4 separate regions of the Homo sapiens genome follow, and all the other regions are linked to region 2. The links come from fine-mapping of genetic effects on gene expression. A gene starts in region 2. Each other region holds a variant in brackets. All regions are shown on one strand. Distances are from middle to middle.

What was found. PIP is the estimated chance that this variant, and not a neighbour inherited with it, causes the effect.
Region 1: its variant is fine-mapped to the expression of ELOA-AS1 in whole blood (TOPMed, PIP 0.99).
Region 3: its variant is fine-mapped to the expression of ELOA-AS1 in blood mononuclear cells (TOPMed, PIP 0.96).
Region 4: its variant is fine-mapped to the expression of ELOA-AS1 in whole blood (TOPMed, PIP above 0.99).

The regions. Positions count from the first base shown.
Region 1 is chr1:23,934,664-23,942,767 of GRCh38, reverse strand. No RefSeq gene overlaps it. Among named protein-coding and RNA genes, the nearest start is that of MIR378F, 9.6 kb to the right of the region's middle. The variant C/A (reference allele first, on the strand shown) is at 3,848.
Region 2 is chr1:23,773,672-23,781,775 of GRCh38, reverse strand. It overlaps ELOA-AS1 (ELOA antisense RNA 1), which reads left to right and starts at 3,479. Exons shown (of 4, transcript NR_038280.1): 1 at 3,479-3,577. PITHD1 (PITH domain containing 1) reads right to left here and starts at 3,358. Exons shown (of 6, transcript NM_020362.5): 1 at 3,063-3,358; 2 at 2,295-2,338; 3 at 1,835-1,912. The coding sequence starts at 3,260. RefSeq lists enhancers at 1,229-2,428, 3,682-4,634 and silencers at 2,979-3,028, 3,119-3,428.
Region 3 is chr1:23,609,966-23,618,069 of GRCh38, reverse strand. No RefSeq gene overlaps it. Among named protein-coding and RNA genes, the nearest start is that of MDS2, 13 kb to the left of the region's middle. RefSeq lists an enhancer at 5,201-5,250. The variant C/A (reference allele first, on the strand shown) is at 3,924.
Region 4 is chr1:23,753,260-23,761,363 of GRCh38, reverse strand. It overlaps ELOA (elongin A), which reads right to left. Exons shown (of 11, transcript NM_003198.3): 6 at 7,109-7,264; 7 at 6,904-7,001; 8 at 5,341-5,521; 9 at 4,979-5,090; 10 at 4,239-4,411; 11 at 1-1,852. The coding sequence ends at 1,791. It overlaps ELOA-AS1 (ELOA antisense RNA 1), which reads left to right. Exons shown (of 4, transcript NR_038280.1): 4 at 213-982. Among named protein-coding and RNA genes, the nearest start is that of ELOA, 14 kb to the right of the region's middle. The variant G/C (reference allele first, on the strand shown) is at 3,880.

The DNA.
Region 1 (8,104 bases), 160 kb before region 2:
GTTCATTTATTTCAAGATAGAATGATAATTGTCTGTGTCATTAACAGTTATTGTTTGTAATTTGATTCTAATATTTCCTTTTCTTTTTTTTTTTTTTTTGAGATGGAGTTTCACTCTTTTTGCCCATGCTAGAGTGCAATGGCTCAATCTCGTCTCACCACAACCTCTGCCTCCCAGGTTCAAGCGATTCTCCTGCCTTAGCCTCCCAAGTAGCTGGGATTACAGGCATGCACCACCATGCCCGGCTAATTTTGTATTTTTAGTAGAGGCAGGGTTTCTCCATGTTGGTCAGGGTGGTCTTGAACTCCCAACCTGAGGTGATCCGCCCGCCTCGGCCTCCCAAAGTGCTGGGATTACAGGCGTTAGCCACCGTGCCCTGACTAATATTTCACTTTTATCTTATTTAATAAATTAATTTGATGTATGCTTGTGACATGGGGTTCTCTAACCCCAGAGCAAGGGGTTGTGGAGCCCAGAGCAAGGGCCTCTCTTGCCTGATCTCAGGGGTAATATATTTGCTTGTATGTCCTTAAAATCTAATATAATGAAATGTAGATCAACTATGGTATCTAATAGTTCTGTGACAGCTATCTCCACTAGAAGGATCCTGGAGCAGGCATTGACCACATACAAGGACCACAATTGCCACCAAATACTGTGGCTCAGGGTTCTCCTTTTGGCAGCCCTTATCTGGTAAGACCCTGGCAAAGTTGACACTTCAAGCCCTCCCTTCTTCCTTCCTTTTCAAGGATCTGGACGCATAAGAGTTACAGGCTCTATACACAGGGACTTTCCTTCCTGGAAACCCGGTAGGAAATCCCATTATGGCTGCCTGTTTGCCAAACTATTCCCTTGACTGACAGGATGCAGCCTATTCAAACTTCTCTGTGTCTGTTGAAAAAATGCATGTATAAAAAAGGCATGGCCTCACGTAATTAATTAGGCATCTGTAAGGGAGAGAAGATGATCTTTCCCTTACGCATCGCAGGATTCACGGCTGAGAGCCCATAAGAAAGAACAGATAGGCCAGGCACGGTGGCTCACGCCTGTAATCCCAGCACTTTGGGAGGCCAAGACGGGTGGATCATGAGGTCAAGAGTTCAAGATCAGCCTGGCCAAGATGGTGAAACCCCGTCTCTACTGAAAATACAAAAATTAGCCGGGTGCGGTGGAAGGCACCTGTAATCCCAGCTACTCAGGAAGCTGAGACAGGAGAATCGCTTGAACCTGGGCGGCAGAGGTTGCAGTGAGCCAAGATTGCATCACTGTAGTCAGGCCTGGGCGACAGAGTAAGACTCTGTCTAATAAAAAAAAAAAAAAAAAAAAAAAAGAAAGAAAAGAGAGAACATAGAACAACAGAGAAGCATAATAAATCTATTTAATACAAATTTTATGTGACATAGGTGACTAAGAAATTAAGACTCCGCCAGGCACGGTGGTTCATGCCTGTAATCCCAACCCTTTGGGAAGCCAAGGCGGGTGGATCACCTGAGGTCAGGAGTTCAAGACCAGCCTGGCCAACATGGTGAAACTCCATCTCTACTAAAAATACAAAAATTAGCCAGGTGTAAAAATTAGCCAGGCGTGGTGGCAAGCGCCTGTAATCCCAGCTACTCGGGAGGCTGAGGCAGGAGAATCGCTTGAACCCAGGAGGCAGAGGTTGCAGTGAGCCAAGATCGCGCCATTGCACTCCAGCCTGGGCAACAGAGCAAGACTCCATCTCAAAAAAAATAAATAAATAAAAAATAGGCCGGGCGTGGTGGCTTACGCCTGTAATCCCAGCACTTTGGGAGGCCGAGGCGGGCAGATCACGAGGTCGGGAGATCAAGACCATCCTGGCTAACACGGTGAAATCCTGTCTCCACTAAAAATACAAAAAATTAGCCAGGCGTGGTGGCAGGCGCCTGTAGTCCCACCTCCTCAGGAGGCTGAGGCAGGAGAATCACTTGAACCCAGGAGGCAGAGCTTGCAGTGAGCTGAGATCGCACCACTGCACTCCAGCCTGGGCAACAGAGCGAGACTCCATCTCAAAAATAATTATAATAATAAATAAATAAATAATAAAAAAATTAGCCGGGTGTGGTGGCGGGCGCCTATAATCCCAGCTACTCAGGAGGCTGAGACAGGAGAATTGCTTGAACCCAGGAGGCAGAGGCTGCAGTGAGCCGAGATCTTGCCACTGCACTCTGGCCTGGGCAACAGAGTGAGACTCCGTCTCAAAAAAAAAAAAAAAAGAAAGAAAAGAAAAGAAAACAAAAAGAAATGAAGACTCAAAGAAAGAAACAGGGGAAACTTTAGTTTTATGGACAGTTATGCAAAGTATGACTGGAAGAAGAAAATGTATAATCCAATACCTTTTCTGATAATACACCAGGGGAACTTAACCTATTTGTCCTAATTCTTCTCTGTGTCTGTGTCTTCATTCCCTTCCTCTGGGTACAGGGAATAACTCCAGCTTTAAAGGAAAGTCAGAGAATTCTTTCATGGCTTACTTTAGGGAAGAATAGTGGAAAGTCAGAGAGCCCTTCATGCTTCTGCTGTTTTCTCAAATGTCAAAGAGGCCATATTTTGGGGTAACATGTCCTAAACTGTGCCCCATACTGTGGCATTAAAGAAATCAAGTTGGACTGGGCACGGTGGTTCACACCTGTAATCCCAGCACTTTGGGAGACCGAGGTGGGCGGGTCACCCAAAGTCAGGAGTTCGAGACAAGCCTGGTCAACATGGTGAAACCCTGTCCCTACTAAAAATACAAAAATTAGCCAGGCGTGGTGGTGCACATCTGTAGTCCCAGCTACTTGGGAGGCTGAGGCAGGAGAATTGCTTGAACCCGGGAGGTGGAGGCTACAGTGAGCCAAGATCACACCACTGCACTCCAGCCTGGGTGACAGAGAGAGACTCCATCTAAAAAAATAAATAAATAAAAAATAAAAAAATCAAGTTGAAGAAAAGTATATTTTCATGGCTAGGCGTGGTCACTCATCCTTGTAATCAGAGCACTTAGTGGGGGCCGAGGCAGGAGAATTGCTTGAGTCTAGGAGTTCCAGACCAGCCTGGCCAATATAGTAAGACCCCATCTCTACAAAAAACAAAAAATTAGCCAGGCGTAGTGGCACATGCCTGTAGTTACTCAGGAGGCTGAGGTGGGAGAATCACTTGAGCCTAGGAGGTTGAGGCTGTAGTGAGCCATGGTTTTACCACTGCACTCTAGCCTGGGCGACAGAGAAAGGCCCTATCTCAAGAAAAAAAAAAAGAAAGAAAGAAAAAGAAAAGTTATGTTTTGTTAAAGGTAAGTGTCAAAATAGATTGCCAAATTAAAAAAAGTTTTATAGTATTATATAAAAGTATATTCAATAACACACTTTTATAGAAAGTGTAACAGCTGTATTTGTTATTTATTGATGCATAACAAATTATTCCAAAATTTAGCAGCTTGAAACAACACACGTTTTACTCACGGTTTCTGTAGGTCAGAAATCTGGGTGCAGCTTAGCTCGTCCAGAAGACGAGGCTCTCTCAAGATTGAGAGTTGGTTCAGAGTCTTTCACAAGATTGCAATGAAGGTGTCATCACAGACTGCAGTCATTTCAAGGCTTGGCTTGAGAAGAATCCACTTCCAAACTCACCGCATGGCTGTTGACTTGAGGCATCATTTCCTTGCCTTGTGGACCTCTCCACGGGGCAGCTTACATTATGGCAACTGTTTTCCCTCAGGGTAAGTTAGGGAGGATGAGAGCTTGCAAGGTAGAAGTCATCGTCTTTCTGCAACCTAATCTCAGAAGTATCCCATCACTTTTTTTTTAATTTAATTTTTTTTTAGAGACAAGGTCTCACTATATCATCCAGG[C/A]TGGTGGTCTTGAATTCCTGGGCTTAAGTGATCCTCCCACCTTAGCCTTCCAAAGTGTTGAGATTACAGGCATGAGCCGCTGTGCCCAGTCTCTCTCTCTCTCTCTTTTTTTTTTTTTTTTTGTAGTAAAATACACATGACATAAAAGTTACTATTTTAACCCTTTTTAGGAGTACAGTTCAGCGGCATTAAGTACAATCTTCACCACCACCCGTCTATAGAATTCCTTTCATCTTGCAAAACTGAAACTCTCTACCCATAAAACAATAACTCTGGGCCAGGCACAGTGGCTCACGCCTGTAATCCCAGCACTTTGGGAGGCCGAGGCAGGTGGATCACCTGAGGTCAGGAGTTTGAGACCAGCCTGGCCAACATAATGAAACCCTGTCTCTACTAAAAATACAAAACTTAGCTGGGCATGGTGGTGGGCGCCTGTAATCCCAGCTACTCAGGAGGCTGAGGCAGGAGAATCACTTGAACTCGGGAGGCAAAGGTTGCAGTGAGCCGAAATGGCGCCACTGCACTCCAGCCTGGGCAACAAGACTGAAACTCCGTCTGAAAATAATGATGATAATAATAATAACTCTGCACTCCTCCTCTCTTTCCAGACCCTGCAACCACCATTCTATTTTCTGTTTCTATCTCTATGCAATTGACTACTTTGGGTAACACATATAAGTAGAATCATACAATATTTATTCTCTTGTGTCATATTTGTCCTCTTGTGTCTTGTAGCTTATTTAATTTACTGACCATAATGTTTTCAAAGTTCCTTCATGTTGTAGCATATGTTAGAATTGTCTTCCTTTTGGCCAGGCACAGTGGCTCACGCCTGTAATCCCAGCACTTTGGGAGGCTGCGGCGGGCGGATCACGAGGTCAGGAGATCAAGACCATCCTGGCTAACACGGTGAAACCCCATCTCTATTAAAAATACAAAAAAAAATTAGCCGGACATGGTGGCGGGCGCCTGTAGTCCCAGCTACTCGGGAGGCTGAAGCAGGAGAATGGCGTGAACCTGGGAGGTGGAGCTTGCAGTGAGCCGAGATTGCGCCACTGCACTCCAGCCTGGGCAACTGAGCAAGACTCCATCTCAAAAAAAAAAAAAAAGAAAAAAAAGAAAAAAAAAGAATTGTCTTCCTTTTTCAGGCAGAATAATATTCCATTGTATGTATATTCCCATTTTGTTTATCCATTGATCTGTCAACAGACATTTGAGTTGTTTCCCCTTTTTGGCTATTGTGAATAAGGCTGCTACGAACATAGGTATTCACAGGCTGTTCTAGTCCCTGCTGTCAATTCTTTGGGGTGTACGCCCAGAAGTGAAATTTCTGGATCATATGGTAATTCTAGCTGTTCCCTCAGAAGCACGTGATCTTTGTTAGACCCTTATTAGTGGTTCTGCTTTTTGCCCTTTGAAGCATGTGATCTTTGTACCTACTCCCTGTTCTTACACCCCCTCCCCTTTTGAAACCCTTAATAAAAACTTGCTGGTCTGAGACTTAGGCAGGCATCACGGTCCTACTGATATGTGATGTCACCTCCAGCAGCCTAGCTGTAAAATTCCTCTCTTTGTACTGTCTCTCTTTATTTCTCAGCCGGCCTACACTTATGGAAAATAGAAAGAACCTATGTTGAAATATTGAGGGTGGGTTCCCCCAATATGGTCCGGGGGTAGAGAAGAGAATTTTCTGAAACTAGAACATAAAAATGTAAGGGTTAATGATGTAACCACCCAATGGATTCTTCCTGCCTGCTGCATAAACAAAGACCACAGCATTGCAGTAACGAAAGAGTACAATAGACATGAGGCCGGTCACACAATGTGACAGACAGAATTAGGACTCAAATAAATCTCATCCAAAGCTGGTAGTTTAGGAGTTTTCCAAAGGCACTTTCGAGGAAGGGCTGCGGTGGCTAGGCTTGCTGCTGATTGGTTGGGACAGAGATGAAATCATAGGGGGTGGAAGCTGTCCTGAGTGCTGAACTACTTCTGAGTGGGACCACAGGAGCAATGTCGGTGGGTAGAGGCAGAGCCAGGTACGGGTGGAGCCATTGGTTTCAGACTTCCAAAAACTGAAAAGATACTCAAAAGGCCAATCTACAATAGTGGTGTTACCTGCAGGAGTGGCTGGCAATTAAACAATTTCTTCACCTTAGCAGAATTCAGATTCCTCTCCTCCCACAGCCTGATGACCTTTCATTGGCTTAACAAAGACAGTTGAGTTTTGGGGAAGGCCTATTATCATTTAAAGTATAAACTAAATGTCTCTCAAAGTTAGCTCAGCCCCAAAGCCCAGGAATAATTAAGGGAAAGGCAAGATGGGTGTGGATTAGATCAGATCTCTTTTACTGCCATGATTTTCTTACTGTTATAATTTTTGCAAAGGTAGTTTCTCTTTTTATTTTATTTTATTTTATTTATTTATTTATTTTTTTATTGATCATTCTTGGGTGTTTCTCCCAGAGGGGGATTTGGCAGGGTCATAGGACAATAGTGGAGGGAAGGTCAGCAGATAAACAAGTGAACAAAGGTCTCTGGTTTTCCTAGGCAGAGGACCCTGCGGCCTTCCGCAGTGTTTGTGTCCCTGGGTACTTGAGATTAGGGAGTGGTGATGACTCTTAAAGAGCATGCTGCCTTCAAGCATCTGTTTAACAAAGCACATCTTGCACCGCCCTTAATCCATTTAACCCTGAGTGGACACAGCACATGTTTCAGAGAGCACAGGGTTGGGGGTAAGGTCACAGATCAACAGGATCCCAAGGCAGAAGAATTTCTCTTAGTACAGAACAAAATGAAAAGTCTCCCATGTCTACTTCCTTCTACACAGACACGGCAACCATCCGATTTCTCAATCTTTTCCCCACCTTTCCCCCCTTTCCATTCCACAAAACCGCCATTGTCATCATGGCCCGTTCTCAATGAGCTGCTGGGTACACCTCCCAGACAGGGTGGTGGCCTGGCAGAGGGGCTCCTCACTTCCCAGAAGGGGCGGCCGGGCAGAGGCGCCCCCCACCTCCCTCTCGGACGGGGCGGCTGGCCGGGCGGGGGCTGACCCCCCACCTCCCTCCCGGACGGGGTGGCTGGCCGGGCGGGGGGCTGACCCCCCCACCTCCCTCCCGGACGGGGTGGCTGCCGGGCGGAGACGCTCCTCACTTCCCAGACCGGGTGGCTGCCGGGCGGAGAGGCTCCTCACTTCTCAGACGGGGCGGTTGCCAGGCAGAGGGTCTCCTCACTTCTCAGACGGGGCGGCCGGGCAGAGGCGCTCCTCACATCCCAGACGGGGCGGTGGGGCAGAGGCGCTCCCCACATCTCAGACGATGGGCGGCCGGGCAGAGACGCTCCTCACTTCCTAGATGTGATGGCGGCCGGGAAGAGGCGCTCCTCACTTCCTAGATGGGATGGCGGCCGGGCAGAGACGCTCCTCACTTTCCAGACTGGGCAGCCAGGCAGATGGGCTCCTCACATCCCAGACGATGGGCGGCCAGGCAGAGACGCTCCTCACTTCCCAGACCGGGTGGCGGGCGGGCAGAGGCTGCAATCTCGGCACTTTGGGAGGCCAAGGCAGGCGGCTGGGAGGTGGATGTTGTAGCGAGCCGAGATCACGCCACTGCACTCCAGCCTGGGCACCATTGAGCACTGAGTGAACGAGGCTCCGTCTGCAATCCCAGCACCTCCGTAGGCCGAGGCTGGCGGATCACTCGTGGTTAGGAGCTGGAGACTGGCACGGCCAACACAGGGAAACTCGTCTCCACCAAAAAAATACGAAAACCAGTCAGGCGTGGCGGCGCGTGACTAGGCACTAGGCAGGCTGAGGCAGGAGAATCAGGCAGGGAGGTTGCAGTGAGCCGAGATGGCAGCAGTACAGTCCAGCTTCAGCTCGGCATCAGAGGGAGACCTTGGAAAGAGAGGGAGAGGGAGACTGTGGGGAGGGGGAGGGGGAGGGGGAGGGAGAGGGAGAGGGCAAAGGTAGTTTCAATGGGATTATGAAAATTGGTATATTTTGCAAATGAAAAATAAAATTGTAAGTCCCCCAACCATCTGAATGGATCCTCCTCTCAACCAAGAGCATTCCAAAGTTAACCTGAAAAATTAGTTCAGGCCATGATGGGAAGGGGGAGTTGGACATGCCTCGTTATTCCCTCCTCCCTTTTGGAATTCAGACACAGCTGACCAGCATTAACATTAAAACAGATCTTAAGACTGATAGAACAGGTCAGGTGCAGTGGCTCATGCCTGTAATCCCAGCACTTTGGG
Region 2 (8,104 bases):
AAATCCAGGCATAGAGAAGATAAGGTCTCAAAGTCATGAAGCTAACAAGTGGTACAGCCATTATTTGAACCCAGTTTACTCCAGATCCCACACTCTAAATCACAATGCAGCATGGATGCCTAATATTCTCAGGTCAGTCCATCAACTTCCAAGTAAATGAGTCTCCAAAAGCATCAAAGGTATTATTTCCTTAAAATGATTAAATACATGGATTTGCTTTCAAATTCATGTTTCTAATACTCAACTATAATATATCTTAAATCTCTGGAAGTCCTTTAATCAATTTTTCAGATGAATTTTTTTTTTTTTTTTTGAGACAGAGTCTCACTCTGTTGCCCAGGCTGGAATGCAGTGGTGCAATCTTGGCTCACTGCAACCTGCACCTCCGCGGTTCAAGTGATTCTCATGCTTCAGCTTCTCCAGTAGCTAGGATTACAGGCCTGTGCCACCGCACCCAGCTAATTTTTGTATTTTTAGTAGAGACAGGGTTTCGCCATGTTGACCAGGATGATCTTGAACTCCTGGCCTCAAGTGATCCGCCCGCCTCGGCCTCCCAAAGTGCTGGGATTTGAATTATTTTTTTCTTTTGAGATGGAGTCTTGCTCTGTCACCCAGACTGGAGTGCAGTGGCACGATCCTGGCTCACTGCAACCTCTGCCACCTGGGTTCAAGCGATTCTCCTGCCTCAGCCTCCCAAGTAGCTGGGATTACAGGCGTGTGCCACCATGCCCGGCTAATTTTTGTATTTTTAGTAGAGACGGGGTTTCAGCATCTTGGTCAGGCTGGTCTTGAACTCCTAACCAGTCTCGGCATCCCAAAGTGCTGGGATTACAGGTGTGAACCACCATGCTCGGCCTTTAGGATTTGAATTTTTTATTTATTTGTTTTTATTATTACTTTTGAGATGGGGTCTCATTCTGTCATCCAGGCTGGAGTGCAGTGGCGAGATCTCGGCTCGCTGCAACCTCCGCCTCCCAGGTTCAAGCAATTCTCCTGCCTCACCCTCCCTAGTAGCTGGGATTACAGGCACGCACCACCAGGCCCAGCTAATTTTTGTTTTTTTAGTAGAGACGGGGTTTTACCAGGTTGGCCAGGCTGGTCTCGAACCTCAGGTGATCCGCCCGCCTCAGCCTCCCAAAGTGCTGGGATTACAAGTGTAAGCCACTGTGCCCAGCCTATATATCATCTTTTATTGGTTTTGTGAGATAAGCTACTGCACCCGGACTGAATTTTTTAAATGTAAAGTTCTTCTTATATGTTTCTCCAGCACTCAGAAAGCAGTTTTCCCCTTCTTTTAGGAAGGCTGTTCTGGAATAAGGTAAGTTGTCAAAAAGGGTACTAGCTCTGGTGGCAAAAGATTCAGTGTTGCAAGAGGTATACACAACTTTGCTAACTAAATGCCACGCAAAGTCAGGTGGAGCAATTCCATGTCAACAAAACACATAAGATCATTACTGTATGAAATAGCAAGGAAAAATGTTGAAGCTAACCCCTAGAATCCATAAAGATCATATGAGATCTGCAGCTAGTTATTAAGAAAACTGCAGAGTCATCAACAAGTGACATTTACACAATGCTCTCTGAATGAATCATGTCATAGTAAGCACTTTGAAATATGAGACACGCTGTTGGGCCTAAAGATGCTTAATCTAAAAAAGTCATTAATTCAGGAAGAAATATATGTATTCCAATGCAGAATGAGAACAGGACCAAGATATTTTAAAAGGGGAAATATTAAACCCGGTAAGAAGAAAATGATACTATTCTGGAATAAAATGTTACCAGAAAAAGAGAATTAGGAGCTCCTTTGAGGGCCTAAGCCTTTGCCACTTACAGTCTCATCTCAGAGGGGTGTGAGTCATCATCCTCTCCCATTATAATGATGCCTTTGAGCTTGACATTGCCCGTAAATCTGCCAGAATGCAAAAGAGAAGGTTGTCAAACCTGAGTTTGAATACCTGTTTAGTTGTGTGACCCTGGGCAAGACCCTTCCCCTGTATGGGCTTCAGTTTACTCATCTGTCAACTTGTACTAGATAATTTCTAAGATCCTGTCTACCTCTAGCATTCTACAATTCTAAGAAATCTACCTCAATTTCTCAGTTATTGTTCTACAAATACATCTGTTTCCAGTCTGCACCAAGAAAGCTATGATGCTTTCCTCCTCAAACCCACCAAAGTAATTTATCCCATTTCTAGAAGCAAATGTGTGCTCTTGACACCAGTGAATGAATCCATCTGAGGCAACTGGGTACAGCCTATTTAGCCTGAGGTAGGCACCAAGGAGATACTTACGGAATATTAAACAGAAGCTCTTCATCTGCATCACTTTCAACAAACTGGAGGGGATGGGGAGGGGGGAGGAGAAAGCAACAAATATTTGCTGAGAGCCTACAATTTCAGGCATCTCCCACCCTGCTCTACAACTGGGGTGCAATGGGAAGAGTCACTCTCCCTTGGTTTTCCAAGACTTATTAACTTGAAGCTAACCAGTCTTATCCAGTGTCATAACAGCCACAGGCCACCCAACTGGAAGGTTCTTAACAAAAAGCCCATGAATGAATTTCCAGGGTCGAAGAGCCTTCTGAAGTGTGAACTGAAAGGCAGGTGTTTATGTGCATTTTTCTGAGAAGAAGGTCCACTGCTTTCAAACAGATAGCAAAGGGGCCTGCGACCCCACAATGTAAAGAACATTTGCTCTATATGGGAACCACCTTTCATCTCCCTAGGCTCATCTTCACCAGGTAATATGATGAGGCAGCCATTAGCACCAATGGTCCAACGGCCCTCACGACCATCCTCTCTAGCCCACACAGCCCTGGAATAGAGCGTTAGGCTGTGTAGCTTGACAAAACTGTCCCCGTTCCCTCTAGGCCTCAGTTTCCCTATATGCAAAATGGGGAGACAACGCTGCTCGCCTCCCAAAGAGCTGGCAGGAGACAGGCACGGAAAAGCGCTTGGCAACCAGGCTGTCGTTATTCTTAACATCAGAAATGAGTAGACCGACGGCCCGAGGCCCCACACGCACCCTGCCCCGCCCGCCCCAAGCCCCAGGCGGCCCACCTTGGAGCGGTCGGTCCGCTCCTCCCACGGCTTGAAGACGCCGCGGCCGCTGCCCTCGCGGCTCTCGTTAAGGCATTGCAGCCGCTCCAGGTCGATGCGCAGGTACAGGCCGTAGGCCAGGCCGCGCTGCTCGGGCGGCTCCTCCCGTTCGGCGGCGCAGCGGCAGCCACCCCCGCCGTGGCTGTGACCGTGCGACATGGCAACGCCGCCACCTGCGCGTCCTCTCGGCCCCACCGCCGCGCTCGCTCGGCTCGGCTCGCCTCAGACCAGCTCCGCGCCGTTCAGCTCCGGCAACTAAGCGCGCCGCGCCTGCCGCGTCGTAAAAAGCGCCGCTGCGCGGCGCATGCGCGTGGGGAGAAGGCGGGGGGGCGGGGGGGGTGGGGTCGAGCGGAACTGACGTAGGACGCGCGCCTCCCAGGTGCCAGAGTTCGTATATGACTCCAGTCCTGGCGCTGGATGCTGCTGCTGTTCCAGCTTCCTAGGTGTGGAAACTGAAGGACCAAGAGATTAAACAGGTGTGCTGAGTAAACTCACAGGCTGAGATTCGAATTATCCTCCCCCGACGAGGATGGAGCCTTCGCTGTCTTCCTTGATCGCCACGTTTCTTTGCGAGCCGATGAAGGAAAGCGTGAGGAATGATAAGGCCCTGGAGACTGGAGAACGCGAGCTTATCGCTGTCTCACATGCGCACGGCTTAGACGTTGAGAGCTCACAGGCCCACTTGCATAACCACTTTCTTGATAGCGGGGTTACAGCTTGAGAGCATGGGGCTTTGTGCACGGCCAGACCTAAAGACTACTCCTGGGTCTGCTACTGGCCATTGTGACACCTTAAGTCATTTCCCCTATTCTGAGACTCCGTTTCCCCGTCTGTAAGGTGGAAAGAATAGTATCTGTTTCATAGGATCACAGTGAGTATTAAATGAAATAATGCAATTAAAGAACTCAGCAGGCCGGGCGCGGTGGCTCACGCCTGTAATCCCAGCACTTTGGGAGGCCGAGGCGGGCGGATCACGAGGTCAAAAGATCGAGACCATCCTAGCCAACATGATGAAACCCCGTCTCTACTAAAAATACAAAAATTAGCTAGGCGTGGTGGCGCGAGCCTGTAGTCCCAGCTACTCGGGAGGCTGAAGCAGGAGAATCGCTTGAACCCGGGAGGCAGAGGTTGCAGTGAGCCGACATCGCGCCACTGCACTCCAGCCTGGCGACAGAGCAAGACTCTGTCTCAAAAAGAAAAAAAAAGAAAAAACTCAGCAAATGGCTGACACATGATGGGCATTCAGTAGCCGATGGTTATTACGGTCAAATCCAACCACAGCAACTTACTAGCTGCGTGGCCTTGGGCAAGTGACTTGATCTTCTGAGACTCAGTTTACCCCCTGTGAAGTGAAGGGATTGGACTAGATGATCTCTGCGTTTCCTCCCCCATGTGATATTTCAAAGTACTTTTTTTCGAACAGCTGGTTGTGGCCTGTCAATAGGTTTTAAAATCCGTTTATAGAGAATTGTGATCAACATTTAAAAAAAAAATAGAATACAAAAAAAAAAAAACCCAGAATGTATCACACATTTCAAGTCTCAATTGATGAAACTTTTGTTTCAGTTTTGAGTTTGTATTCAGACACAATATGATGTGTTTTTCATATTGTGGGTTGAGATCAAAATAATTAAAAGTCACTGTTTAGAGGTGAAATAATCTTGTTTTCAGGATAGAATGTTTTCCTACTCCCTGGTGGGGAAAAGACAGGATACAGAAAGAGAGTTATGGGATACCCTGGCTACCCTCTTCCCTTCACATCTGGCTCTGGAGTGCTCAGTGGGGCTGGTGAAGTATAGACCAAAATATCCATTTTTTCAAGTTCCATTCAGAAATATTTTCTGGGCCACATGCAGTGCCTCATGCCTGTAATCTCAGCACTTTTGGGAGGCCAAGGTGGGAGGATCACTTGAGCCCAGGAGTTTGAGACTAGCCTGGGCAACATAGGGAGACCCCATCTTTACAAAAATAATTAAAAATATTAGCCCAGCATGGTGGCTCATGCCTGTGGTCCCAGCTATTTGGGAGGCTGAAGTGGAAGGATCTCCTGAGCCTGGGAGGGTGAGGCTGTAGTGAGCTGTAATCATACCACTGCACTCCAACCTGGGTGTCAGAGCAAGACTGTCTCAAAAAAATAAAAACAAGAAAAATATTTTGATGTCCTATTTTAGTTACTTGTGCAATAAGCAAGCTTGGTTCTGTTTCAAAATAGCTCAGTGCCGTGAATTATTCCTGCTTTTAGGTCACAGTTTCAGGTAAGGGACCTGGAATGTGGCAAACAGTAAATGTTTACTTGACTGATATACTTGGTAGCCTTTCTTTGGTAAGAGTGTCCTTTTGAAGAACCAACTCAGGCCTTACCCCGGAGATCTACTCATTTTGGCTTTTTCCTGTTGCCTTCATTAATGATTTATTTGAGCACTGTGTGCTAAGCACATTATGTAGTTCATCTCAATTAATTGTCACATGAACTTTAAGAGCTAGGTACAGCCAGGTGTGGTGGCTCACACCTGTAACACTTTGGGAGGCCGAGGCGGGTAGATCACTTGAGGTCAGGAGTTTGAGACCAGCCTGGCCAGCATGGTGAAACCCCGTCTCTACTAAAAATAGAAAAATTAGCCAGGCATCGTAGCGTGTGCCTGTAATCCCAGCTACTCGGGAGGCTGAGGCAGGAGAATCGCTTGAACCCAGGAGGCAGAGGTTGCAGTGAGCCGAGATTGTGCCACTGCACTCCAGCCTGAGCGACAGAGCGAGACTCCATCTCAAAAAAAAAAAAAAGAGAGCTAGGTGCTATTACCTACTGTTATCTCCAATTTGAAGATGAGGAAAACTGAGGCTGAAAGAGGCAAACTAACTTGTCTGAGACTAGGTAAAGTTAGGAGGTAACCAGGCTTTGAACACATCCTGTAGTGTTCTTGTAACACATCAGTAGTTTCCTGGTTAGGGTGGGGAGGTTGAGGCGGGAGGTGCACACAAAGTAAATATGCTGTATCAATTAGCTTATGCTGTGTAACAGATTACCCTAAAACTTTGATAGCTTTAAACAACAAACATTGATTAATTCGCATGATCCTGTGGATTAGCTTTTCTGGGCCAGTTCAGCTTGGGCTGGAAAGTTTGGGATGGTCTCACTCTCGTCTGCTTGATGCTGGCTGTTAGCTGGGATGATGGGACCACGTGTCTCCAGCAGACAAGCCTAGCTAAATTACATGGTGATAATTGCAGAGTTCCCAGGAGCAAGAGAGGGCAAGACTCAATTGCACAAGCACTTTTTTTTTTTTTTTTTTTTTTGAGATGGAGTCTTGCTCTGTCACCTAAGCTGGAGTGCAGTGGCACAATCTCCGCTCACTGCAACCTCCCCCTCCCGGGTTCAAGCGATTCTCCTGCCTCAGCCTTCCGAGTAGCTGGGATTACAGGCGCCTGCCACCACGCCTGGCTAATTTTTGTATTTTTAGTAGAGATGGGGTTTCACCATGTTGGGCAGGCTGGTCTCAAACTTCTGACCTCAGGTGATCTGCCCACCTCGGCCTCCCAAAGTGCTAGGATTACAGGCATGAGCCACTGCGCCCTGCCAGCACAAGCACTTTTTAAGCCTTACATCTATAATCTTTCTATAATGACCCATCAGCCAAATCCAAATTCTAGAGTGGAGAGCTAGACTGTAGACTTCACCTCCTGATTGGAAGAACTGCAAAATACTGTGGCTCCTCCCCTCCCAGTAGGTCTGTATTAGTTGTCTTTTGTTGTGTAACAAATTATTCCCAAACTTAATGGCTTAAAACTGTAGCAGGACAAGCTGCAGATAAAACCTGTCAGACACCAGGTTAAAGAAGGAAGAGACTTTATTCGGCCAGGAGCGTTGGCAGAGTTGTGTCTCAAGAACCAAGCTCTCCAAAGAAAAAGTTCCTGGCCCTTTTAAGGGCTTATAACTCTAAGGGGGTCCACGTGAAAGGGTTGTGATAGATTGAGCAAGTGATCTATAGGTAACACATGTGGTTAGGGTGGGGGCGTTAATCTTTAACCTCAGGCCTGGTAAGTGGCATCAGTTGGTCTTGCCACTGACTTCATTCCTGTTGTTTTTCAGCTTTTACTTCTTCCTTCTCTTCAGAGACAGTAAGAGAAATGGCCTCTCTCCTCAAAACAACAATTAACATTTATCATCTCACAGTTTCTGTGAGTTAGGAATTTGAGAGCGTCCTAGCTGGGTGGTTCTGGCTTGGGGTCTCTCATGAGCCTGAAATCATATGAAGGCTTGGCCAGGGCTGGAGAAGCCCCGGCTGGCAAGTTTGTGCAGGCTCTTGGCAGGAGGCCCCAGTTCCTTAACACATGGACCTCTCAATAGTACTGTTTGAGTGTCCTCATGATACAGCAGCTGGTTTTCAGCAGAACAAGTGATCTAAGGGCAAGGTAGAAACCACCAATGTCTTTTATGACCTAGCCACAGAAGTCCCATATTGTCAATTTTGCAACATCCCATGGTTTCACAGGTCAGCCATATTCAGTGTGTGCGGGAACTTCATAAGAGTGCAGATACCAGGAGGTAGAAATCATTAGAGGCCACCTTAGTGGCTGGCTACCATGCTGCCATACATGTTAAGTGGCACTGAAAATGGCTTTATTCTACTGTACTTAATTAGTAGTTTGGCTGTGGATAGAATTCTTTCATAATTGTGAAGAAATTGCTCTGGTTTTCTTCTGGCTTTGATAAATACAATGCTGTTCTGAATCCTGATTCTTTTTATGGGTTTTCCCCCCACCCCACCCCGTTTTCTGGAAGCTTTTAAGATCTTCTCTTGGTATTCTAGAATGTGATGATTTTTGTTGTGCTTTGGTCTCTTTTGTCATTCATTGTGCTGGATACCTGAGGGACCTTTTCAATTTAGAACCCCTAGAACAAAGTGTGAGCACACAGGTTAGGACCTCTGCATGCGTGGACACAAGGCCCTTCCAGGCACACAGATTTAGAGATATGGAGAGAATGGGGCAGGGCTAGGGTCCTGTTC
Region 3 (8,104 bases), 160 kb after region 2:
CAGCAGGAGTGACATGGTCAGTTGTGGGTTCTAGAAAGATCTCTGTGGTAGGCTGGGCATGGTGGCTCACACTTGTAATCCCAGCACCTTGGGAGGCCAAGGCAGGTGGATCACTTGAGGTCAGGAATTCAAGACCAGCCTAGCCAACATAGTGAAACCCCGTCTCTACTAAAAATACAAAAATTAGCCAGGTGTGGGGGTACGTGTCTATAGTCCTAGCTACTTGGGAGGCTGAGGCAGGAGAATTGCTTGGACCCGCGAAGCGGAGGTTGCCGTGAGCCGAGATTGCACCACTACACTCCAGCCTGGCCAACAGAGTGAGACTCCATCTCAAAAAAAAAAAAAATCTCCATAATAGGTATGGAGGATGGACAAAGGGGGAGGAAAGGGAGGACAGATTCAAGTTGTTGTGGTGAGCTGAAGGAGGCCTGAACCAAGGTAATGGCAATGGGGTGGGGTGGGGGGGAGTTGGGCAAGAACTTTCTGAAACTGAACAGCAGTAGATCCAGGAGAACAATTAGAGGGAGAGACACAAAATAAAGGTGACAGAATTTCCTGTATCAGGAGCTGAGGTAGATGATGACAGCATTAACCCAGGAAGGTGGCAGGCAGAGCGAGGTCACCTTTGAGGTACCTCCCAGATGTCCATTTCCTCAAGAACTGACTGCACTACACACCCAGATATAGGACTAGATAAGACCCAAGATCATCGAGGGAGAGGCAAGAGAGAGAGAATATTAGGAATCTTTTGGTCGTAAGTGACAGAAACTCAGTTCAAATTAGGTTATGGAAAACAAAACAAAAAGAAAAACGATACTACAAACGTAGTGGCCCCTTTATCTTAGAGTTTCAAGGGTGAGTCAAACTTCGGGCATTGCTGGATCCAGGGTTTCCAGTGATGACATTGGGTTATCTCCCCATCACACCCATCAGTCAGTTCTGTTTGTCTCTGCCTTTCTTTAAGAATGGGGCTTCTCGGCCGGGCATGGTGGCTCAAGCCTGTAATCCCAGCACTTCGTGAGGCTGAGCCAAGCGGATCACTTGAGGTCAGGAGTTCAAGACCAGCCTGGCCAGCATGGTGAAACCCTGACTCTACTAAAAATACAAAAATTAGCCAGGTGTGGTGGTGAGTGCCTATAATCCCAGCTACTTGGGAGGCTGAGGCAGGAGAATTGCTTGAACCCGGGAGGCGGAGGCTGTAGTGAGCCAAGATCGCACCACCACACTCCAGCATGGGTGACAGAGTGAGACTCTGTCTCAAACAAAAAAAAAAAAAAAAAAAGAATGGGCCTTCTCTCCCATGGCAGATAGGCATTCTCCAGTCCCAGGAAAGATGCTCAAATGTTTACATCCTACCAGCTCTCATTTCAGGAGAGAGCCAAGCTTCGCCACTGGCTCCATCGAAAGTTCCAGGGAGGGCTCTGATTGGCTCAGCTTGTATCACATGCCCAGGCCCAAACCAATCACTGTATATCAAGGAAAATGGGACACTGTAATTGGCCTACTTGCCTTCCCAGTGGGTGGGGCCCTGTGAGGGATACCTGACCAGAGCACATGGACAGGAAATGAGAAGATTGGAAAAATATGCCGGGCAGACAAAAGAGGTTCCAGCCCTGCCTCAGTTTACAATGAGGCTTGAGGGCAGAACCCTGGGGAACACTAATATTCAAGGGTTGGCTGGAACTTGGGAAGGAGACTGAGGGGTATGAGAGAGGTTCTGGGAGAAGCAGCGTCTTCGAGGGAGGAGAGAAGTTCTACAAGGAGGTAATGGTCAAAGGCAAATTCTGGAAGGGGTCACTCACACTCACTGTTCTGGGCTCCAACCACCCACCCTCACCTGACATGGAAAGGCTCTGGGACCCGGTTTCACCAACACTGATTATGCCACCTCCCCCAGCAGAGTCTGTTTGCTTATCTGTGAAATGGGGGCAATGACAGAACACCCACCCCATAGGGTGACAGAGAAGGCTGAGTGAGAGACACTGAGAAATGCTTACCCCGGTGCAATGTAGCACCACTCAGGCACCATTCATTCATTTATTCATTTATTCATTCATTCATTCACTCACTCATTGAACAATCTTTAACTGAGTGCCTCCTTTGTATCAGTCCCTATGCCAAACACAGTGGATGTAAAGAAGACACAGGGATCTGAGGATGCGTGGGATACAGACCTGATGGTGGATGGTTATGATACAGGGTGATAAGTGCTGAAGGGACTGGGTTTTGCAAGCCCAGAGAAATTTGGTCCACATGGAGGCCCCAGGGCAGCCCCCTGAGGAGACAACATTTGAGATGACATTTCATGAGCACTCACCATGGGTCAGGCACTGGGTGTGCCAAGCGTTTCCACGTTGTTCCTGTGACGTCGGGGAGGGGATGGGGCCCAGAGAGGGTGGGAGGCTTACTCAGGGTCACCGTGCTCGTAAGTGGGGACACCAGGGCTGGCCCACCTCCACTGGATGAGTTTGCCAGATGGGGAGAGAGGAGAGACAGGATGTCAGGCAGAGGGCAAAAGACAATGTGACCCAATCCTCTAGGATGGGGAGAGGAAGCTGGGATTCCCATAGGGAAAGCCCATATCTGTAGAAGGGTGGGCCAGAGGCAGTAGGACAAGGGCAAGGTGAGAGCCATGACCTCCAGCAAGTCCTGTGCCTCCTGGAACCTCCGTCTCCTCCTCTATGAACTCAGGATAAGGACATCTATTATATTATCTTCATCTCCATTTTACAGGTGAGAAACAGATTAGATCAAGGCTATCCAGTTGCAGAGCCCACGAGCTGAGCCATGCACTGTGGTTCTGCTGGAGCAGATGAGATGTATGAGTTCCCTGCAAACCCTCCTGTTTGTCTCAAGAGTGGGAGCCATGAAAAGCACCCCAAGAGTAGGGGGGAGACTTCATGGGAGCAGCCCTCAGAGAGACCCAGAAGATGCTCCTGTGCTCCTACCCAGAAATTCAGTCTCTTAAGGACCTTAGAGACAGTTTCATTCATGCATTAGTGAGGAGCGATGCCTACAACTTGCAAATGGAGAAACTGAGTTCAGAAAGGAGGGAGTGACTTGTCCAAGGTCACACCACAAGCTGGTGGTAGAAATCCCTCCAGAATGCAGGCATCCCAACATCTGGTTTTGTCCATTTCTCCATTCCCCTGACTCCTCACAAATGACTTGTCCCCTTGTCCCCAGCATGGTGATCTCTACCGGTCCTGAGCATTTAATATGGGCCAGACTCTTCGCCTTACTCTGACTCTCCAAGCCACCCTATGAAGTGGTATCCAAAGGCAACTTACTTACTTAAATACATGGCTTATTGATAGTATGTTACAAAACACATAAAATAATAATTGATGTATCTGCATTTCATGACCACCCTATAAATTGCACAATTCCTATTTTACAGATGAGAAAATTAAGGCTCAGAGATGGGAAAAGACTGTCTCAGGGACACACAGCGAGCAAGCAACAGGGTGAGGATTAGTATCCAGGCATCTCTGACTCCAAAGCAGGGGTGTCTTGTCCACACCCCAAGCTGCTGTCAGGGAACAGATGGGAGAGCCTGCAAGGGGAGGTGAGAGGAAGGTGCTGAGCCCCAGTCATGAGCGAGGTGACAGTTATTGTAGTGGCTAAACAGGTGGCCCCTGAGATCAGGCTGCCTGGGCTGGAATCCTGGTCTACCACTCCTTAGCACTGTGCGTTCAGGCAAACCATTGGTCCGCTCTGAGCCTTGACTTCCTTATCTGTAAAATGGGCGTGGTAATAATATGCCACCCTCATTAGGTTCCTGGAAGGGTTAAATGAGTGTGTAGCCCATGGTACATGCAATGGAAGTGCTGCCTCTTATTTGTGTGGCATTCTGCAGTGACTGTCTCGTGTACTCTCAATAGTGCTTATAACTCTTACGGGTTCTGGAGCTAGCCACCTGG[C/A]CTCTGCTACCACTTCCTAGCAGGGCGGCAGAGCTTAGAGGGAGATTTAAGGTGAGGATGGTGAGGTTTAAGTCCTGGGTCCCTCATTGGCATGGCCTTGTACTTCATTATTTAAAGAGACCCCCCCGCCCTCAGTATTGTATAACCTTTACTGACATCCTGCCAAGCCTGGATCTGCCCCTGTGTGAGGAACTCTACCTCTCTGTGTGCCTCAGTTTTCTCATCTGTTAAGTGGGAAGAATGTTAATTGTGCCAAATAAATGAATTAATACGTGTAGAATGCTTTAAAAGTGCCTGGTGCATAGTAAATGCCCAATACCTATTGGCTTCTTAAGTAAATCTCCAGTGGTAAATGTGCTTAAGTGCTAGTAAACGTGTTAAATGCTTTCCATGTGTCATGTGGTTTCATTATTTTTAATCTTCACAACAAACCATCCCATTTTCAGAGAGGTGAAGTAACTTGCCCGAGGTGACAGACTGTGGAAGCCAAATGGGTCTGACTCCAGAGCCAGGCCCCTGACCACCGTGCCAGCTACTTCCCTGTTGATGAGGGTTCCCTCCCCTCCCCACTGGCAGCTGAACCTGGAGGACTCAGGTCACACCTCCAGCAGGTACTGTCTGCCAGGCCCAGGTCACCTGAAGGTGGCCTATGAGGCCCCTGCAGGAAAGAAGCCCCCATGTCCAGCTGGGCCCAGGCCCTGCCCCACCTCGCACCCTCATCCCTCCTGCCCCCTAGAGCTTCCTCCTGAGCTCCCGTCACCAGAGGCCCTGGCCCAGGTGGGGCGGGGGCTAACGGGTGACAATGACCGATTTAGAAAGTAAAGTTGCTTCTCAAACAAATAAGAAAGAAGAGGAAAGAAATGGCCTGCCCGCTTCCTGCCCCACTCTCTCTTCCAGCACCTGGGGCCCAGCTGCAGGCTTTTCACTGCTTGTTTGTTCATCCTGCCTCGAGAAGCCTCTTCTTGAAGCCCCAGGCCCCCTCCATATGGGCGTTGGGATAATTGTTGAGCCAGTGGAAATAAGCACCCTCCATGATTGTTGTATTGTCATCGTCTCCAGTATTGTTTTGGACAACAATACCAGTAATCATAACAATCTGGGTTTCCTGCGGTTGGGAGGGGGGGACTACCAGCTTCGACTTGGGAGAAGTCCCCCTGGCTCTGCAGTTTCTGAGATGTGGAGGCCTGAGCAGGTCATAACTCCTCTCTGGGCCTCAGTTTCCTTGTCTGCAAAATGGGGACAGGGTGATGGTGAGGGCTGAATGGGGCAAGCATGGCCTGTGAAGCATAGTGCATGGCCCTGGTGGGAACCATTCAGTTGATTACTATGAAAGCCAGGGTCACACAGAAGCAATTTTAAGAGCCTCCTCAGACAAGGTTGGAAAGCTCAGTGGACTCCAGGATACAATGCTTATAAAGCCCTTGGTGTGTTTCTAATAACTGCTCTGAGTGCTTTATGTATTATCATTCATTTCATCCTTACCACAACCAGATGAAGCAGATGCTATTGCTGTTCCTATTTCATAGATGAGGAAACTAAGATGCAGAGAAATGACTTGTCCAAGGTCAGCACAGCTGGTAGGTGCAATTGGGGATGTGGATGCAGCCTTTCCAGGTCCAGGATCGGTGCTCTAAGCTGCATACACTGCCCTGGGGTCAGGGTCTGGCTCTGAAGGGTCTGACTTGCCTCGCGATCGTGGACAAGTCATTTGCCTTCTAAGCCTCAGACTTCTTCTACAAAATGAGCAGCCCATGATACCTGCCTGTAGATGTTGTACAATCCTAAAGGAGAGTTGTGGTCAGATTAGCGACAATGTAGAGAAAGACAATGAATGAGTACACCAGGGGTTCAGGAAGCCATGGCTGACTGCGATCATTATTATTAGTTTTAAAGTCACAGGCAAGAGGCAGCCTAGAGGATGCTGAGGGCCCTGCCCAGCTTTGAAAGTCTAAATCCTGTGGTTGCAGCTGGGGAGTGACTCCGGGAGGCACCTGGTGAGAGGTGGCTCCACCCGTTGGGGCTAAAAAAATCCCTGAGGCTGCCACCGTGCAATCTGCCAGTCACCTGCTCCAACTAATGGCAAACTCTCCAACCCTGCTTCCCTGCCCCTACCCCCACCCCCTATGAGCTGTGTGGCCCTGGAGAAATCATCTGACCTCTCTAAGTTTCTGGAAAAAAACACTGACCTTGTAGAGCTTTGTTGGATTGGAAATAGTGCCTAGCAATAGGTAGTTGCTACCAGGTGATGAGAACCTGCACTTTGAGGCCCACTTGTGTTCCAGTCCTGGCTATGCTACTTCCTGTTGTGTGACCTTGGGCAGGTTGCTTAGCCTCTCTGAGACTCAGTTTCCACAACTGGAAAATGGATTAGCACAGCACCTGACACACAGTAGGTGCTTAAGTGCTAATGATTATTGTTGTGTATGGCCATTTATTGTATTTTTTTTTTTGGTTTTTGAAATGGAGTCTCACTCTGTCTCCCAGGCTGGAGTGCAATGATGCCATCTCAGCTCACTGCAACCTCTGCCTCCTGGGTTCAAGCAATTCTCCTGCCTCAGCCTCCTGAGTAGCTGGGATTACAGGTGTGTGTCACCACAGCCAGCTAATTTTTTTTTTTTTTGGAAATGGAGTCTCACTCTGTTGCCCAGGCTGGATTTGCAGTGGTGCGATCTTGGCTCACTGCAACCTCCACCTCCCAGGTTCAAGCAATTCTCCTACCTCAGCCTCCCGAGTAGCTGGGATTACAGGTGTGTGCCACCACACCTGTGTAATTTTTTGTATTTTTAGTAGAGATGGGGTTTCACCGTGTTAGCCAGGATGGTCTCGATCTCCTGACCTCGTGATCCACCCGCCTTGGCCTCCCAAAGTGCTTGGATTACAGGCATGAGCCACTGCACCCAGCATTTATTGTATTTTATAAGCATATCCAGAAGTCCTTTAAAGATCCTGAGGGTATTATGTTCTTTCTCATGCTGGATCTCTCTGTTTGCCCCTCTAGAACTCTCCTCTGCCCTTCCTCAACCTGTTCTGTACCTTGATTAGGTGACCTTTGTGGGTGACATCAATGGCCCCCATTGCCCTCTGGCTTCTGGCTGGGTGAGGCAAGAGGACAGAGGACAGGTGGCAAGTGGGGACTGGTATTTATTCCCCAGCCCCTTCCTACAGGGTTGCCACCTTGGCTGTGTCCCTCACCCGAAGCCTACAGCTCCTATCAGGCAGCCCTGTGCATACATCTCTGGCCATGGGTCCAGGTGACCTCTCCCTCCCCACCCTTCAGGCCACAGGTGGTAACAGCTCCTCATATTGCCTGCCAGCCCTGGGGTACTGCACCATTCCCCCTGGTTTTCCTAAACCTTGTCCACACCTTTGTTAGTAGTCCCTTCATTAAACTTTTTACAAATTACCCATTTGGTTATACCATCTGTTCCCTGCCAGAGCCTTGATCAGGGTTTATGTGGCATGTATCCTGTTGTTTTCACCTAGAACTCCAGGTATGGAAGAATAATAAAATTCTCACTGCAATTCACACTGCTTTCACATACATGTAGTCATCCACTTTATTAATTACTGCTGAGCATCTGCTGTGTGCCAGGCTGTATGCAAGGAATTAGGAGTAGAGATGACCAAGATATAGTTCCTGCCCTCAAGGAGCTCCTGGGCTAGTCAGAGAGACAGACCCTAAACAGACAACTACAATATAACTTCTAAAAGCTGTAACAGGCCGGGTGTGGTGGCTCATGCCTGTAATCCCAGCACTTTGGGAGGCTGAGATGGGTGGATTGCTTGAGGTCTTGAACCAGCCTGGCCAACATGGTGAAACCCCATCTCCACCAAAAAACACAAAAATTAGTTGGGCATGGTGGCATGTGCCTGTAATCCCAGCTACCCAGGAGGCTGAGGCATGAGAATCGCTTGAACCGAGAGCGGAGGTTGCAGTAAGCCGAGATCACGCCACTACATTCCAGCCTGGGTGACAGAGCTATAAAAAAATAAAAGCTATAATAGAGACACATGCAAACCCTGTGACAAGGCAGGAGAGAAGCCACCAAACTCTGGGAGAGGCTGGGATGGCTGCATAGCAGAAGGATTTTTGAGCAGCATCTTTTTTTAAATTCTATTTTAGTAACATATTTAATCCAATGTCTCAAAATATTATCAATATGAAATATTATCCATTATAA
Region 4 (8,104 bases), 20 kb after region 2:
GAAAAAGCTATTCTAGGCAGCAGACATCTGGCACCTGACCCAAATGTTCATTTGGTTTCAGTTAAGAGGCTTCCTAATATTAGATTTGTGGGGCAGGCTAGGGATAGGGGTGGAATGGTGGTACAAGTAACCAAGAGAAGTAAAGTAATGCTTTACCCATTCAAAAATATAGCAAATTAAAACATAGTAACATTTGTGTCCTGTCACAATAGGCACCCTGCACAGCAATACACACTGAACAATGTCGAGTTTCTGCTGAATAGACTTCCTACGTTGCTCTGGAATTCGAAGTTGGCCTAACTGAGGTCTCCAGTTACAGAAAACACTGGCTCTGTATCCTGGGCTTTGAGAAAACTTATCAGGCTGTCACACTTACCATCCCTTCAGTCTGCTTGTCAGGTTCCTTAAGGACGCATATCTCAAATGTATGGCATCTACCTCTACCTGGGTCACAACCAAGTGGGTTTCTACTAGATCGGTGTTCCTTGACAGCCAACAAGGGAGCTGACACTGCCCTCCTAAGTTCTGATCTTGCTCCTGTTCAACTGGAACTTGATGGATCCCATGTGGTTTCCCCCATCCTGACGCTGTGGCTCAGACACTCTCCCTAAGCTGGTCCTTCCCTCCAAATCCTGCCTTAAACACACTCAGAAGGTAGAAAACACTTCAGCAGCAAAGTCCTCTTCCCAAGCCAACAGTTGTGTTCTTCCAATCACATGATCTTACCTTTTCAATAAAAGGCAAAACAAACCAATTTCCAACATAGCATTACAGCCTTTAAAACCATTCACTTCTCATAGTGATTCACAGAGAACAAGAGATTAAAGTGCTGGATTTTAAATGTCTAAAGTTGCCTTCAGGGCTACAAAAAGCCCTGCCGTGTGTGTTTTTCCTTCATGGTGTTGAGGGGAAGGAAAGATAGGGAAGGGCAGTGGGGAGAAACCCTAAAATTTTCAATCAGAAACTGGAAATTGTAAAAGTGGGAGGTGGGGAGTTCTGTGCAAATCAATCTCCCAAGGTTCTGCGTCCTCTAGTGAGCCTCAAAGAAAAAAAAAAAAACAAAAAGGTGGGGACTCGCAAAAAGGATGAGGGAAAGGCTCCAGACCTACAGAGCACCTCCCTTAATAAATACCAGTTAGTAAGAAAGAGATGCACCTGCACAGGAATGCACAGCAACAGTGGGGAGGGCCTGAGGTGGAGTCCGCCGAGCACCCTGTCGCCCCACTGAGGCTCCCTTGGGGACAGGCGGTCTAGTGCTCATTCCTTGCCCTACGTGCAGCAGGTACTGTGCAGGCTCTGGAGATGCCCAGTCCTCTGTCTGGACCAGAGTCCACACAGAGCTGAGCTGGGGCAGGAGACTGGCTTTCACTAGGCTTTCATCTGATTTTAATAAGGACCTGGAAGATAAAAGGCTAAATGTGTGGTAGAGGACAAAAAACAAAAACAAACCTGGGGGATAATATAAATACAATCTGGGGGCAATATTTATTAATTAAAACTACGTCTTATAGTTTACAAAGATGCTAATGAACAACAAAAGTATAATTGACCTTTAAAATCCTCAGTGAGACAGAGGCTTCACATCTTCAGAATTCTAAAGTGTGCTCCAGGCAGGGAGGCGGGGCTGTGGCACGCAGGTTCCCAGGGGCAGCACCTGCAGACTGCAGGACTCGGAGACCAAAAGGATCCACAAAGCAAGACTCCAGTCTCCTGTAGAATTCCATTCCCCAACCCCCACTGTCCTTGTATTCCTGCCTCCCCAGATTCCATTTCCAAGGCAAGTCCTCAGTTTATCGTCGGGAGAATCTGTTCTTGAAAGCTTTAATTGTCTTGGCCATCATTGGGGCAATTTCTGTGAAAAGAGAAACAAGGCAGCTGTCTCAGATCTGTGGCGGCTTAGACACACCCCCAGTAGTTTACAGTCAAAGCCAGCTCTGCTATTCTTGGCTGTGCACCACCAGGCAGAGATACAAGTAGTAACTATCTCCTCTGTTCACAATGCAATAAAAGCAACAGCACAGAGCAGACACTTTCGGAGGACCTGCCAGGGGCATGACCACCACTCTCTCTAACCACCTGCACCAAGGCTCAGAGAGCCTGGCCAACTTGCCCATGGTTGTACAGTAAGGTACAGAATTACAATTCAATCTCTGTCAGACTTTCTTGTTTTTATTTTTGTAAGGAAAGAGTCTCACTCTGTCACCCTGGCTAGGGTGCATTGGCACAATCACAGCACACTGTAGCCTCTACCTCCTAGACTCCAGAGTAGCTGAGACTACAGGAGTGTGCCACCATGCCTGGCTAATTTTTTTTTATTTTCTGTAGAGTCAGGGTCTCACTATGTTGCTCAGGCTGGTCTCGATCTCCTGGGCTCAAGCACCCTCCTACCCCAGCCTCCCAAAGTGCTGGGATTACAGGTGTGTGTGAACCACTGTGCCCCGGCCCTTGCCAGACTCTAAAGGCCATACTCAGTCATAACTTAACTTTGCCTCACAAATAGCCAAACCAGTAAACAGCACGTCTACCCCCAATCTGTCCAGTGTAGAAACAGGTCTAAGGTGGCTATGCAAGTACTGCCTAAGGAAGGCCAGCCTGCCTCCTGAATGGTTCATCTGAGCATAGCTGTAGCTCAAGCCAGGACTCCCACCCTCCCATGGGCCCTGCAATTAATACAGAATAAGACTTAAGTTAGGACATCCCCTTAGGATACTGGGGATAGTCTATGGTAATAAAGTTAACAAAATACAAAATAGACGCAACTAGATATAAAGAATAAATATTTGGAAGACCCGGCCAGGCATGGTGGTTCACGCTGGTAATCCCAGGACTTTGGGAGGCTGAGGCGGGCGAATCACAAGGTCAGGGGTTCGAGACCAGCCTGGCCAACATGGTGAAACCCCGTGTCTACTAAAAATACAAAAAATTAGCTGGGCTTAGTGGCGGGCACCTGTAATCCCAGCTACTTGGGAGGCTGAGGCAGGAGAATCGCTTGAACCTGGGAGGTGGAGGTTGCAGTGAGCCGAGATCACGCCACTGTACTCCAGCCCAGGCGACAGAGTGAGACTCTGTCTCCAAAAAAAAAAAAAAAAAAAAAAAAAAAAAAATAAATAAATAAATTGGAAGACCCAATTAGATATAAAGAATAAATATTTGGAAGCTAGAGTTATAAGACTATAAAAAAACAGTAAGAGGGCCTGTCATTTAGCTGTTAATATTAGTAATTATGAACACTGTGGTATTGCCTAGAGAAGTCAGTTTATATTTAGGTGAAAAAAGAAGAGTGCCAAAATGGTCATTCACAATGATATTTATTTATTTATTTAGAGACAGTGTCTCACTCTGTCATCCAGGCTGGAGGGCAGTGGCACAATCCCAGCTCACTGCAACCTCTGCCTGCCAGGTTCAAGCAATTCTCCTGTCTCAGCCACCCGAGTACCTGAGATTATAGGCACATGCCACCATGGTGGGCTAATTTTTCTATTTTTAATAGAGACAGGGACCATGCCTGGCCAGATACTATTTTCTACTTTCACTTTTTTTTTTTTTTTTTTTCCAGAGACAGGGTCGGCCGGGCACAGTGGCTCACGCCTGTAATCCCAGCACTTGGGAGGCCAAGGCGGGCAGATCGCGAGGTCAGGAGATCGAGACCATCCTGGCTAACATGGTGAAACCCCGTCTCTACTAAAAAATAGAAAAAATTAGGTGGGCATGGTGGTGGGCACCTGTAGTTCTAGCTACTTGGGAGGCTGAGGCAGGAGAATGGCATGAACCTGGAAGGCAGAGCTTGCAGTGAGCTGAGATTGTGCCACTGCACTCCAGCCTGGGTGACAGAGCGAGACTCCATCTCAAAAAATCCTCCCACCTCAGTCTCCTGAGTAG[G/C]TGGGACTACAGGTGTGTACCACTATGCCCTATTTTTTAATTTTTTGTAGAGGGTCTCATTATGTTGTCCAGGCTGGTCTTGAACTCCTGGATTCAAGGGATCCTCCTGCCTCAGCCTGCCAAAGTGCTGGGATTACAGGCATGAGCCACTGCACCCAGACTCACTATAACTATTTAAGAGATATAATGCACTATGGACAAAGCAGGGGGAAGGAGGGACTGACATTCAGACCAGCTATGTGCAAGGCATCATGTACATGCAACATGCAGTCCACAAAATGTAATACAGTGAATAATGACATTGAGAGTTAAAAACTAGTGCTGAAATAATATTTGAGCAGGAACTCCAAGTTACTTACTCTTCACAGTGGGTTTCCTAGGATCATAGGAAACAGTGCTGCTGACCACTGGTGCCAAGTGGGCACTGCTGGTGCTTGGGCCATCATAGGCCGGCTCCTCAGGGCTGGGGTTAAAGCTGATGCTACTGGCGGAAGCATGGCTGCTTCCCATGGGGTACGGGGCTGGCTTGATCCTGCAACACAGGACAACACTGGTTAGGCATGAGCACAAGAAATCTGCCCTGAGCATGAACAGCCTGAAGCTGGCCTGTGTGAGGATGACTCACCCTGTTTGTGGCTTTGACCAATGGACCCTATCACCCTGGATTCTGGTGGTGGCTCAGAGATGTCTCCATTATCCTTTCAGAAAAAATGATAATCTCAACTAACTTTTCACTGTTTTGGTATAAATCTGTATTTTGAAAAGGCTAATGTGGCTTAGACAAAATAACAATCATTGCAGAAATGTGTTTTTTGTTTAGATGGGAAAAGGGAAAGCATAAGGGAATGTTTCCCATAAGCCAGGCTTTGCTCTCCATTTAATCTTGACTACCCTAGGGCAGGGGTAATTATCACCTTGCACTGCAGTCCAAGAAGCGGAGGCTGAGGGAGGTGAGGGAAGTGCTGAGCTGATGAGGTCTGCCTCCAGAGCCCACAGTCTGCACTGCCTCACTTTCACCAAAAGCAATTTGCTTCCTGCCGCTATGGCTACCTCTAAGGGTTGATAGCACACAAAAGCCAGGTAAGAACACAGATCTTACTTGATTTTCTCAGGGACAGCTGCTCCTCCCGTTCCAAACTTTTCCTGCCTCCTCCGGACGTCACGAGGTGGCTTGGCCACAGAGTTGACAAAGGCCATCTTTGCTTGTCGGCCTGTGGAATTATGGAGATGAACATCTGCCTTCTTGAGCAGAGATGCTACTGTTATTTAAATAATCCACGGGCTTTTTGAGTGCCCTGAAACCCCACTTGTAGGGTAGAATGGGCGGTGGCAGAAGAAATACCCACCCTGCTACCTGATGTAGGGGCAAGCAGTCCTACACCAGCCAAGCCCACCAACACCCTGCTATTGACCAGAACACTCATCCTGCCAGTTCTCCCCCAGCTCTCCCGTCTCTGTTACCTTTGGGCTTATTGGCATGTGCGAACTGGATATTCTTTGTTAGTACTCGTAGCCGCTGCTCTCGGGCGTCCTGAAGCCGCAGGTACATCTCTCGCCACGACTCATACTCTTCGGGTCTTTCTTCCTTAAAGTCTCGGTGACAATGAACTTTCCATAATTGATCTGTTTCTTCAATTAATACCTGAAACCAGAACCAGGACATCATTTGTGTACAAGCACTTTTCCATATTTTTTTTTTTTTTTTGAGACAGAGTCTTGCTCTGTCGTGTAGACTGCAGTGCAGTGGTGCAATTTTGGTTCACTGCAACCCTTGCCTCCTGGGTTCAAGCGATTCTCACGCCTCAGCCTCTCAAGTAGCCAGGACTACAGGTGCTTACCACCACGCCCAGCTATTTTATATTTTCAGTAGAGATGGGGTTTTGCCATGTTGTCCAGGCTGGTCTCGAACTCCTGACCTCAGATAATCCGCCCACCTTGGCCTCCCAGAGTGCTGGGATTACAGGCGTGTGTCACCATGCCCAGCCTCATATCTTTTTCTGATTATTTAATTACCTAGGAGTGACCAGTTTCCCAAAAATTTTTTGGTCTTCATCTTAGTAGTATGTTAAAATACCACAATTCTAGGAAAAAAATAACTCCCTAAATTTTAAAAATGCGAAGTGTGAGGCACTATGCTAGTTGCTTTTGGTGGCTGTGACAGAATATCACAAAAATCTGTGTAACATCAGTCTTTTCCTTTAGAAAATCAGCAAAGGGTAGAACTGCGATCAAGTCAAATCAGGTACTTCCCAACACTACGCTGAACTGTGATGGCAAAGGGGCAACCTAAGAAGGATGTTAAGTTATTGGCCAGGCGCGTTGGCTCATGCCTGTAATCCCAGCACTTCAGGAGGCCAAGAGTCTGAGAGTCCATCTCTCTAAAAAATAAAAATATTAGCCAGCTGTGGTGGTATGTGCCTGTAGTCCCAGCTACTTGGGAGGATCACTTAAGCCCAGGAGTTCAAGGATGCAGTAAGCCATGATTAGGCCTCTGTACTGCAGTCGAAGCAACAGAGGTAGACCCTATCTCCAAAAAAAAAAAAAAAGGTGTTAGGTCATAGAACTTTCAGAATTAAAGAGAGACAGCTGATGCAATCAAATGTGTATACCCTACATCCTAAGGAGGATTCTGGATAAATCTTGATGTTTCTTAAGAGACATCCAGCCAATCACCAGATGTCAGAGTGTCAACACAAAGTGCTTTCCCCGCCCTGGGTCCCAGCTACTCTGCTGCCAGAATTCTCCCTTTACCTTCATGACTAGGCAAGCTCAAGGGAGATGTTAAGTGTTTTTCTTCTCCCTTTGAATCCCACCCTGATCCTAGCCCAAGAGGCCCACTTAAGGTGCCAGGAGCAAGTGCTAATAACATGCTTGTTTAAAGGCCCAGTGGCAAACCAAATATATCCAGAACAATGCTCTGACCACTGATCTGCCCTTCAGCCACAGCGGAGTCACAGGGACAAAGCTATTTCTGGAGGTACAAGCCAGAAAACTGCCCTCTTCCCACCCAAACAGAATACTCACATGATTGTATTCCTCTATGCGATACAGCTGATCAGGTGTACACCTCTCCAAAACGGGTTCAAGAACAGAGTATGGGACTCCTCCCACTTCAAAGATTGCTGCAGAGAAACCAAAGGTGAAGACACTGAGTAGCAGCCAAGCCACCCAGTGATAAGGTCCAAGTGCTACAATGTGCTTGAGAGCTAGAGAGAAGCGTGTGACTTACAATCGATGTTGTTTTTAAGTACTCGGATGCATTGCTGGTGCAAGGTCATCATTTTAGGGAGATAGGCACACTTGGAACCAGAATACACCTGCATCTTGGAATTCATTCTGCGCCCAGTAAATCCAGCTTCTTCTTCTTCCTGGGGTGAAGAGAACGCTATAGGGCAAGAAAAACACAAAAGGCCCTAAGTGATCCAGTGAAAACTCTCCTTCTACCCCCTTCAGCCTCCTACTTCCCTTTCCCAATGGCAATCCACGCTACAGATTTTTGTAGATCCTTCCAGAGAATTTAAAAATAAGCTCCTGTAATCCCAGCACTTTAGGAGGCCAAGGCACATGAATCATCTGAGGTCAAGAGTTCGAGATCAGCCTGCCCAACATGCACCTGTAGTCCCAGCTACTCAGGAGGCTGAGGCAGAGGAATTGCTTGAACCTAGGAGGTGGAGGCTGCAGTGAGCCAAGATGGAGCTACTGCACTCCAGCCTGAGTAACACAGCAAGACTCTCAACAGCAACAACAAAAAAAAGCAAATGTATCTTATTCCTTTTAAGCCAATGAATCAATTAATAACATACTCACTACATACATTGCTTTTTTTCATTTGCCACATCTGAGAGATCATTCCATGTCAGTGCATAGACTTTCCACATTTTTTTTTTACTGTGGCATAGGATGCCACTGTGTAGATGAACCATGATTTATCTGTTAGTCTCCTGCTGATAGACCCTTATGTGGCTTCTACTTCTTTTGCTATGAAAATTAGACATTTTTTTCTTTCAGACAAAAATCCTATGTAACACATAGGATAAAGGGCTGCTAATAACAGCAGCAGCAATTTACTGAACAATTACTATGTGATAAACCCAGAGCAAAAAGGCATCACTTCTGAATTCATTAAACTGAGCCCTATGGGGCAGATACCATTATAACTCCCATTTACACAATATATACAACTAAGGTCCAAAGAAATTAAGATATTTCTCAAGGTCATATAACT